Linked DNA regions of Homo sapiens. The protein of the gene in region 2 purifies or fractionates together with the protein of the main gene of each other region. This does not show direct contact. Each region holds a gene or a part of one and is shown on either strand. Other genes may lie near its edges.

Evidence for each region.
Region 1: the proteins of CEMIP2 (region 2) and PRMT2 purify together in Homo sapiens (co-immunoprecipitation; one large-scale study listed by IntAct). This does not show direct contact.

The regions. Positions count from the first base shown.
Region 1 is NC_000021.9:46,642,019-46,645,838, forward strand, and holds part of PRMT2 (protein arginine N-methyltransferase 2), read left to right. Parts: intron 1-1,516; coding exon 1,517-1,621; intron 1,622-2,287; coding exon 2,288-2,470; intron 2,471-3,820. UniProt on the Homo sapiens protein: Arginine methyltransferase that methylates the guanidino nitrogens of arginyl residues in proteins such as STAT3, FBL, histone H4. Acts as a coactivator (with NCOA2) of the androgen receptor (AR)-mediated transactivation.
Region 2 is NC_000009.12:71,733,932-71,737,751, reverse strand, and holds part of CEMIP2 (cell surface hyaluronidase CEMIP2), read left to right. Parts: intron 1-2,757; coding exon 2,758-2,946; intron 2,947-3,820. UniProt on the Homo sapiens protein: Cell surface hyaluronidase that mediates the initial cleavage of extracellular high-molecular-weight hyaluronan into intermediate-size hyaluronan of approximately 10-5 kDa fragments.

The DNA.
Region 1 (3,820 bases), on a different chromosome or scaffold from region 2:
TGATTTTTACCCATGAAATTGACAGAGACTAAAGTGATTGGTATCTATTGAGTGAGAGTGTGGGAAGATTGGTGGTTCCCTCTCAGCAAGCGGTCCAGGGAACACCTTTCTGGAGAGCACTGGGTGGTAAAACCAAAAGCCACATAGTCTCAGTCCATCAGGTTCACATTCAGAGACTTACCCTAAGAAGATTAAGGTACATACAGAATGATTTATGTTGAAAGAAGTTCATCTTAACATGATTTAGAATAGTAAAAACTGAAAAGTCTAAATGTACAAGACTAGGAAACTGGATAGGTAAGTCCTGATAATTCATAGACTGGATATTAAATAGTGTTAGAAGTATATTTAATAAGAAAAATGTTCAGAGTTTATAAAGTGAAAACCATAGGCCACAGGCTTATTGTGTGAACCCAGTGAATGCTTTGTACTTATGTTACGTGTCCACTTTTTTAAAAGTCTGAAAGTATAAACACCAATGTGCTGTCTGTTATTATCTGTGATCAGTGAGCAAAATTACAGGAGGTTTTAATTTTCTTCTGTGTACTTGGTGTTTTCACACATTTTCTAAAGTAAACACGAATTACTTTTATGTTTAGGAAAATGTGTTTAAAATGTATGTATTGAGACAAGGTTGATTCATTGAACTGGAGTGTGTGATCTGAGGTTCTGCCCCCTGCAGTGATGTCTTCCAGGCAAGCTTATTCTTATATAAAGTGAACGGCCAGGCATGGTGGCTCATGCCTGTAGTCCTAGCACTTTGGGAGGATGAGGCAGGTGGATTGCCTGAGCTGAGGATTTCGAGGCCAACCTGGGCAACATGGTGAAACCCCATCTCTACTAAAAATACAAAAAATTAGCTGGGTGTAGTGGTGCACACCTGTTGTCCCAGCTACTTGGGAGGCTGAGGCATCAGAATCACTTGAACCTGGGAGGCGGCAGAGGTTGCCCTGAGCCGAGATCATGCCATTGCCCTCCAGCCTGGGCAACAGAGCAAGACTCTGTCTCAAAAAAAAAAAAAAAAAAAAAATGGAGGGGTTGGGGGAGGCTCCAAGGACCTGTGTGGGTCCAAGCTGGGCTCTGCTGCCTCGTGGAGGTTTGTGCCATGCCATCAGCTCTTTCCACAGGCCCCTGGCTGTGCCTGCCTGGGGCGCTGGGCCCCTGGCTCTGTCCTCACACTGGTTTCTCTTCATGGGGTTGATGATCACCTTCAGGAAGCAAAGCTGATGAAGGACAAGGGCTCCTCACCAAATAGACACTAGTGGTGCCTGTTTCTGACTTCTTGCTTTGATGTTCTCTTTTAGGGTCCAGATAATTTTTTTTTTTAGAAAAGAAATGTAGAGTGAAGGTGACAGCCTTTGATTATAGTAGTAAAGATGATCCAAATAGTTTGTATAATAAATACTTGGACACATGAATCTGTATTTGAAATTTGAAACCATCCTAATAATATAGCCAAAAAAAAAAAAAAAAAGCTCCAGCGTCCTCTCCTCACGCTTTCCTTGGCTTTGAGCAGGGAGAAGAGCCTGCTGAGTGCAGTGAGGCCGGTCTCCTGCAGGAGGGAGTACAGCCAGAGGAGTTTGTGGCCATCGCGGACTACGCTGCCACCGATGAGACCCAGGTAGCCACACGTGGTGGTTAATGCTTTATGGCTTTCAGCATGTTCAGTGTCAAAAGGAGATAAATTTTGCAGACGTCACACCAAAGTTAAATGAAGAGGTATTCAGATGCGTAGGGCCACACAAGACCTGTGTGTGAAGCTCACAGCCCAGCCAGTTCTGCCTCAAGCATGATGTAAAGATACGAGGCATGGAGTGGGGACCCTCAGCCAGGGGCAGAAGCACCTGTTCTGGTTTCTACTTGGAATGTAGAACCCACCCAGTTAATGAAAAGTAAGGCTACCAAATATATCAAGCTATATCTGCTTGGACATAGCTTTGTTTACTTTGTGACAGGAATTTCTTAGAGTCAGCCTCCAGTAACTCAGTTGGCATAGTTGAGTTACAATGAAGAGGCTGTTGAGAAATTCTCTCCTAAGCCATTTGAAAATGTTTACTCCTTCTTTTAAAAAATATCTGTTAAGCTGTGCCCTCCTTTCAGGTAGATGTTCCAGAGGCATCGCTAAGTCATGGTGTCACTTGCAAACATTCTCAGTTGCTGTCATTACCCACTGACTCCTGTTTGAAATCTCTGTGATTTTGTCACCATTGATGGGATTTATCACTGAGCCACATTTGAAATACCAATGACTGGTTTTCTTATTGAATTTTAACTTTTTTTTTTCCAGCTCAGTTTTTTGAGAGGAGAAAAAATTCTTATCCTGAGACAAACCACTGCAGATTGGTGGTGGGGTGAGCGTGCGGGCTGCTGTGGGTACATTCCGGCAAACCATGTGGGGAAGCACGTGGATGAGTACGACCCCGAGGACACGTGGCAGGATGAAGAGTACTTCGGCAGCTATGGAACTCTGGTATTGCTTTCTAAATTCCCTGTTCAGCTGGCCAGGCGGTGGGTTCTCTCTAGCTTTAGTTCTACTGCAACGTTCAGAGCAGGCCCATAGTCTTACAGGCCAGAGCTCCTCTGTTGTAGCCACTCAGCTCTGACATGGTTGTGTGGAAGCCACTGTGGATGACACACAAAGTGTGCACTGTTGTGTTCCAATAAAACTTTATTTATGGATCTTGAAATTTGAATTTATACTGTACAGTTTTCATGTGTCACAAAGTATTTTCTTTTGATTTAAAAAAATCATTTAAAAATGTAAAACCCACTGTTAGTTTGGAGGCCATCCAAAAACAGGTGGTGGGCTAGATTTGGCCCATGGCTTAGTTTGCCGACCCCTGGCTTAGAGATATGATTTGAGCAATGAGATTATGTGCGTGCTCCCTCAGTATTTAAAAAAAAAGCAGTAAATTTTACTTTAAAAATGAAATTAGGCTGAGTGTGGTGGCTGACACCTGTAATCCCTACACTTTGGGAGGCCAAGGCAAGAGGACACTTGGCTTGAGACCAAGTGTTCAAGACCAGCCTGACAACATAGTGAGAAAAAATAAAAAATATAATTCGTCTCTACAAAAAAAAAATTAAAAAAAAATATAATTAGCTGGGCATGGTGGTGCACGCCTGTAGTCCCAGCTACTCGAGAGGCTGAAGTGGGAGGATTGCTCAAGCCTTGGAGGCCAAGGCTGCAGTGAGCCATGATGGCGCTGTTGCACTTCAGCCTGGGCTACAGAGCGAGAGCCTGTCTCAAAAAAAAAAAAAATAGAAAAAATTCTATAAATCTATGAATAATACTACTTAGGTCAGGTGTGGTGGCTCATGCCTGTAATCACAGGACTTTGGGAAGCTGAGGTCAGAGCATCACTTGAAGCCAGGAGTTCAAGTCTGTGGTGAGCTATGATTGCGCTACTGCACTCCAGCCTGGGTGATTGAACCAGACTCTGTCCCTAAAAAAATAATAAAAGCCCAGCTTCTAAATAGCTTACCGAAATTTTTTCCCCACCATGGAGAAATGCCTATAACCCGATGGTCCAGGCAACAATCTCTGGTTACATTTTAAAACTAGATGAAAACAGTTACTTGCAGGATGAATGTTATAAAAATGATGTTAGTTGAAAGAAGGAATAGGGCAAAGAATCTATAACGTTTGACTCAATTATATAAAGTTAAGAGGCCATATTAGAAGGTTTTTTGTTTGTTTTTGTTTTTTTTTTTTTGAGACGTAGTCTTGCTCTGTCACCCAGACTGGAGTGTGGTGGCAGGATCCTAGTTCACTGCAGCCTCTGCCTCCCGGGTTCAAGCAATTCTCCTGCCACAGCCT
Region 2 (3,820 bases):
ATAGAAAAGCAGGGTAGATCAAGAGTACAAAAACAGAATCCAAGACTTGCCCAGGTTAAGTTTTATCTGGATAGTTGGCAGAGCCGGGTACGGTGACTCATGCTTATAGTCTTAGAGCTTTGGGAGCTTGAAGTGGGAGGATCACTTAAGGTTAGGTCTGGGCAACATAGTGGGACCATGTCTATAATTTTTTTTAAAGACTGTAAGAATACATATTATTGGTTGTTCCTTGCTTGAATTTCCCCACTTTTGATTCTCCAAAGTGAATGTGTTCTTCTTTCACTCATATTGTCATCCCTTAGAGTTAGCATATTTTTTTTCTTTTTCTTTCTTTTTTTTTTTTTGAGACGGAGTCTCGCTCTGTCACCCAGGCTAGGGTTCAAGCGATTCTCCTGCCTCAGCCTCCTGAGTAGCTGGAACTACAGGCACGTGCCACCACACCTGGCTAATTTTGTATTTTTAGTAGAGACGGGGTTTCACCATGTTGGCCAGGCTGGTCTTGAACTGCCGACCTCAGGTGATCTGCCCACCTTGACCTCCCAAAGTGCTGGGATTACAGACTTTTCTTTCTTTCTTTCTTTTTTTTTTTTTTTTTTGAGAAAGATCTTACTCTTGTCTCCCAGGCTGGAGTGCAGTAGTCCAATCACAACTCACTGCAGCCTTGACCTCCTGGGCTTAAGCAATCTTCCCAGTATCTGGGAGTACAGGCATGCACCACCACACCTGGCTAAGTTTTTGATTTTTTTGTAGAGATGAAGTCCCACTATGTTGCCCAGGCTGGTCTCCTGGACTCAGTGATCCTCCCGCCCTAGCTGCCTAAAGTGTTGGGATTACAGGAATAAGCCACCACGCCCATCCTAGAGTCAGCATCTTAAAGTAGCCACAGGGTAGTATGCTGTTAATTAGACGACAGAGAAGTACTGATATTTATTAAACAGCTATCTTTTGAAATGTCATGTTTTCCTTCTCTGTCAGTGTTATGAAGTAGTTCTCATCTATTTCATGGACATTTCCGTTAAATCAGTTTTTGATTTATGACAGATTATATCATGAATGTTAAGAAGCAGAAAACATTTCTATACTGGATAGCATGTAAAAGAAGCCAAGTTATGAAGTTGGATCAGATTTTCAGTTCCTGTCTGCTTAACTGGGAACTAACTTTGACTTTCAAAGAAGATATTAGGAAAGATCAGTAATTAGTAGTCATTAGATTACATAATTTACATCATCCCAGGAAAGGAGCTGAGTTGGACAGGGGCACCATCATGTGACCTCAGGTTACATTGCAGATCATACTGGTCATACTCATCCATTCAGTAGACATCCGTGGATACATACCACAAACAAGACAGAGTAGTGCATACGTAAATAATGTACCCTGCTACCTTCACTGATGCAGCTTCCAAGGAGGTGAGCAGTCCTCCCACTGGGAAGGTATGAACAATACCAGGCAGTATACCGAGAGAATACCGGAGAGAGAGAGGTTGCTTCCAACAAGGATGTTTGGGAAGTCCTTAAAGAATTGCCTGAACTTCATAAAAAGGACAGTATGTTGGTTGGTCAAGAAGAATGGAAGGACATTTTAGGGGAAGAATAAATCACCATCAAAGGCACAGAGATGAAGGGTTTTCTGAGACAGATTTTTATGTTATTTTTTTGAGAGAGGATCTTGCTTTGTTGCCTAGGATGGAGTGCAGTGGCACAGTCGTGGCTCACTGCAGCCTCAAACTCCTGTGCTCAAGTGATCCTCCCACCTCAGACTCCCAAGTAGCTGGGACCACAAGCGTGTGCCACCATGCCCAGCTACTTCTAAAAATATTTTCTAGAGATGGGGCCTCGCTCTGTTGCTCAAGCTAGTCTTGAACTCCTGGGCTCAAGTGATCCTCTGGCATCGGCCTCCCAAAGTGTTGAGATTATAGGCGTGAGCCACTGTGCCCAGCCACAAATTGTTATTTTATGTATTATTTTTGAGACAGGGTCTTGCTGTGTCTCATAGGCTGGAATGTGGTGGCCCGATCATAGCTCACTGCAGCCTTAACCTTCCTGGCTCAAGCAGTCCTCCCACCTCAGCTGCCCAAGGAGCTGGGGATGTAGGCACACACCACCATACCTGGCCAATGTTTTTTTGTAGGGACAGGGGTCTCACTATGTTGCCCAGGCTGGTCTCGAACTGCTGAGCTCAAGTGATCCCCCTGCCTTGGCCTCCTGAAGTGCTGGGATTACAGGTGTGAACCACCACGCCTGGCCCACAAATTCTTATTCTTAATATTAAGATTGTTAGTGTGCTAATGTTCTATCCATTTTTCTGTGCTTGGATCAACTTGAAGCACTGGGTATTTATTACAGACCTATCCTCTGCTTGACAACTTCTGCTGGAATATATGTACTTGTCACATATTAGGATGGTTTGGGGTCAGTATAACAGTTGTTGCACTGAGTTAAATATAGCAAGAGATTTGGGGATCTAGAGCCTTCTTCAAAAGTATAAAATAATGGTTTACTAAGGTGACATCTTGTGTTCCTTCATGGCTAGAGGTACATGGGGCACTCACCCCTTGAAGGCAGGGATCTCTCTGTTTTCATATTTTTATTACTTATATCTGTAGAGTGACTAATACATGGTAGCATGCGTAAAAATTTGCTGAATCGTGGTTATCTTAACTTTTGATTTGTGAATCAGTGTGAGGGTTCATTTTAGAGAGAAAAAAATACTGTTAATGTATCACTTTCTTTTTCTTTTTTTTTTTTTTGGTTTAGGCGTTTCTCTTTCAGGATTCCGGGTAGAGGTTGTAGATGGAGTGAAGCTAAATTTGCTAGATGATGTTAGTAGTTGGAAACCTGGAGACCAGATTGTGGTCGCAAGCACAGACTATTCCATGTACCAAGCAGAGGAGTTCACTCTTCTTCCCTGTTCTGAATGCAGCCATTTTCAGGTCAAAGTCAAAGGTATTAAACTGCTTAGAGTACTTCTTGGGAAACACACTATTTTCTTGGGATTTGATTCCTGAAATCCTTTTTCCTCTCAGTCACTACCATCACTACCACCACCACCATCACAATCATCAGTATTGAAAGTCATAGCAGTGGAGTGCATCAAACACTAGATTCCAGGGAATATTAGATAAAAATAGCTATTGAGCAATATTCTTGCTGCTAATGATACATATTGCTTCAGTTTCTTTGTATAAAAAAAAGATGTCAACTAGAGAAATTGATTTTCCAAGGTCTTTTCTATTATTTTAAGTTCTGGGTTACATGTGCAGGATGTGTAGGTTCATTACATAGGTAAACGTGTGCCATGGTGGTTTGCTGCACCTACCAACCCTTCACCTAAGTATTAATCCAAGCATGCATTAGCTATTTTTCCTGATGCTTTCCCTCCCGCTGCCTCCCCTCCATTTTCTTTTGTATTAATTTTCTACTATCAGATAATAGTAAACCCAATGATGAATTAGATCCATTTATTAATAGAAGTATTTCTTAATTAAAAGAAATCCTATGGTTTTCGAGTGCCTATTTGATTACCAAAAACAAAAACAAAAACAAAAACTCATTGATATTTAAAATGGAATCAGATAGGTATTTTCTTAAGACTACATTTCCTTGCTGGGAGCAGTGGCTCCCGCCTATAATCCCAGCACTTTGGGAGGCTGAGGCAGGTGGATCTCTTGTGGTTAGGCATTTGAGACCGGCCCGGCCCATACGGTGAAACCCCATCTCTACTAAATATACAAAAAACATTAGCCAGGCATGGTGGCACAAGGCTTGTAATCCCAGCTGCTAGGGAGGCTGAGGCAGGAGAATCGCTTGAACCCAGGAG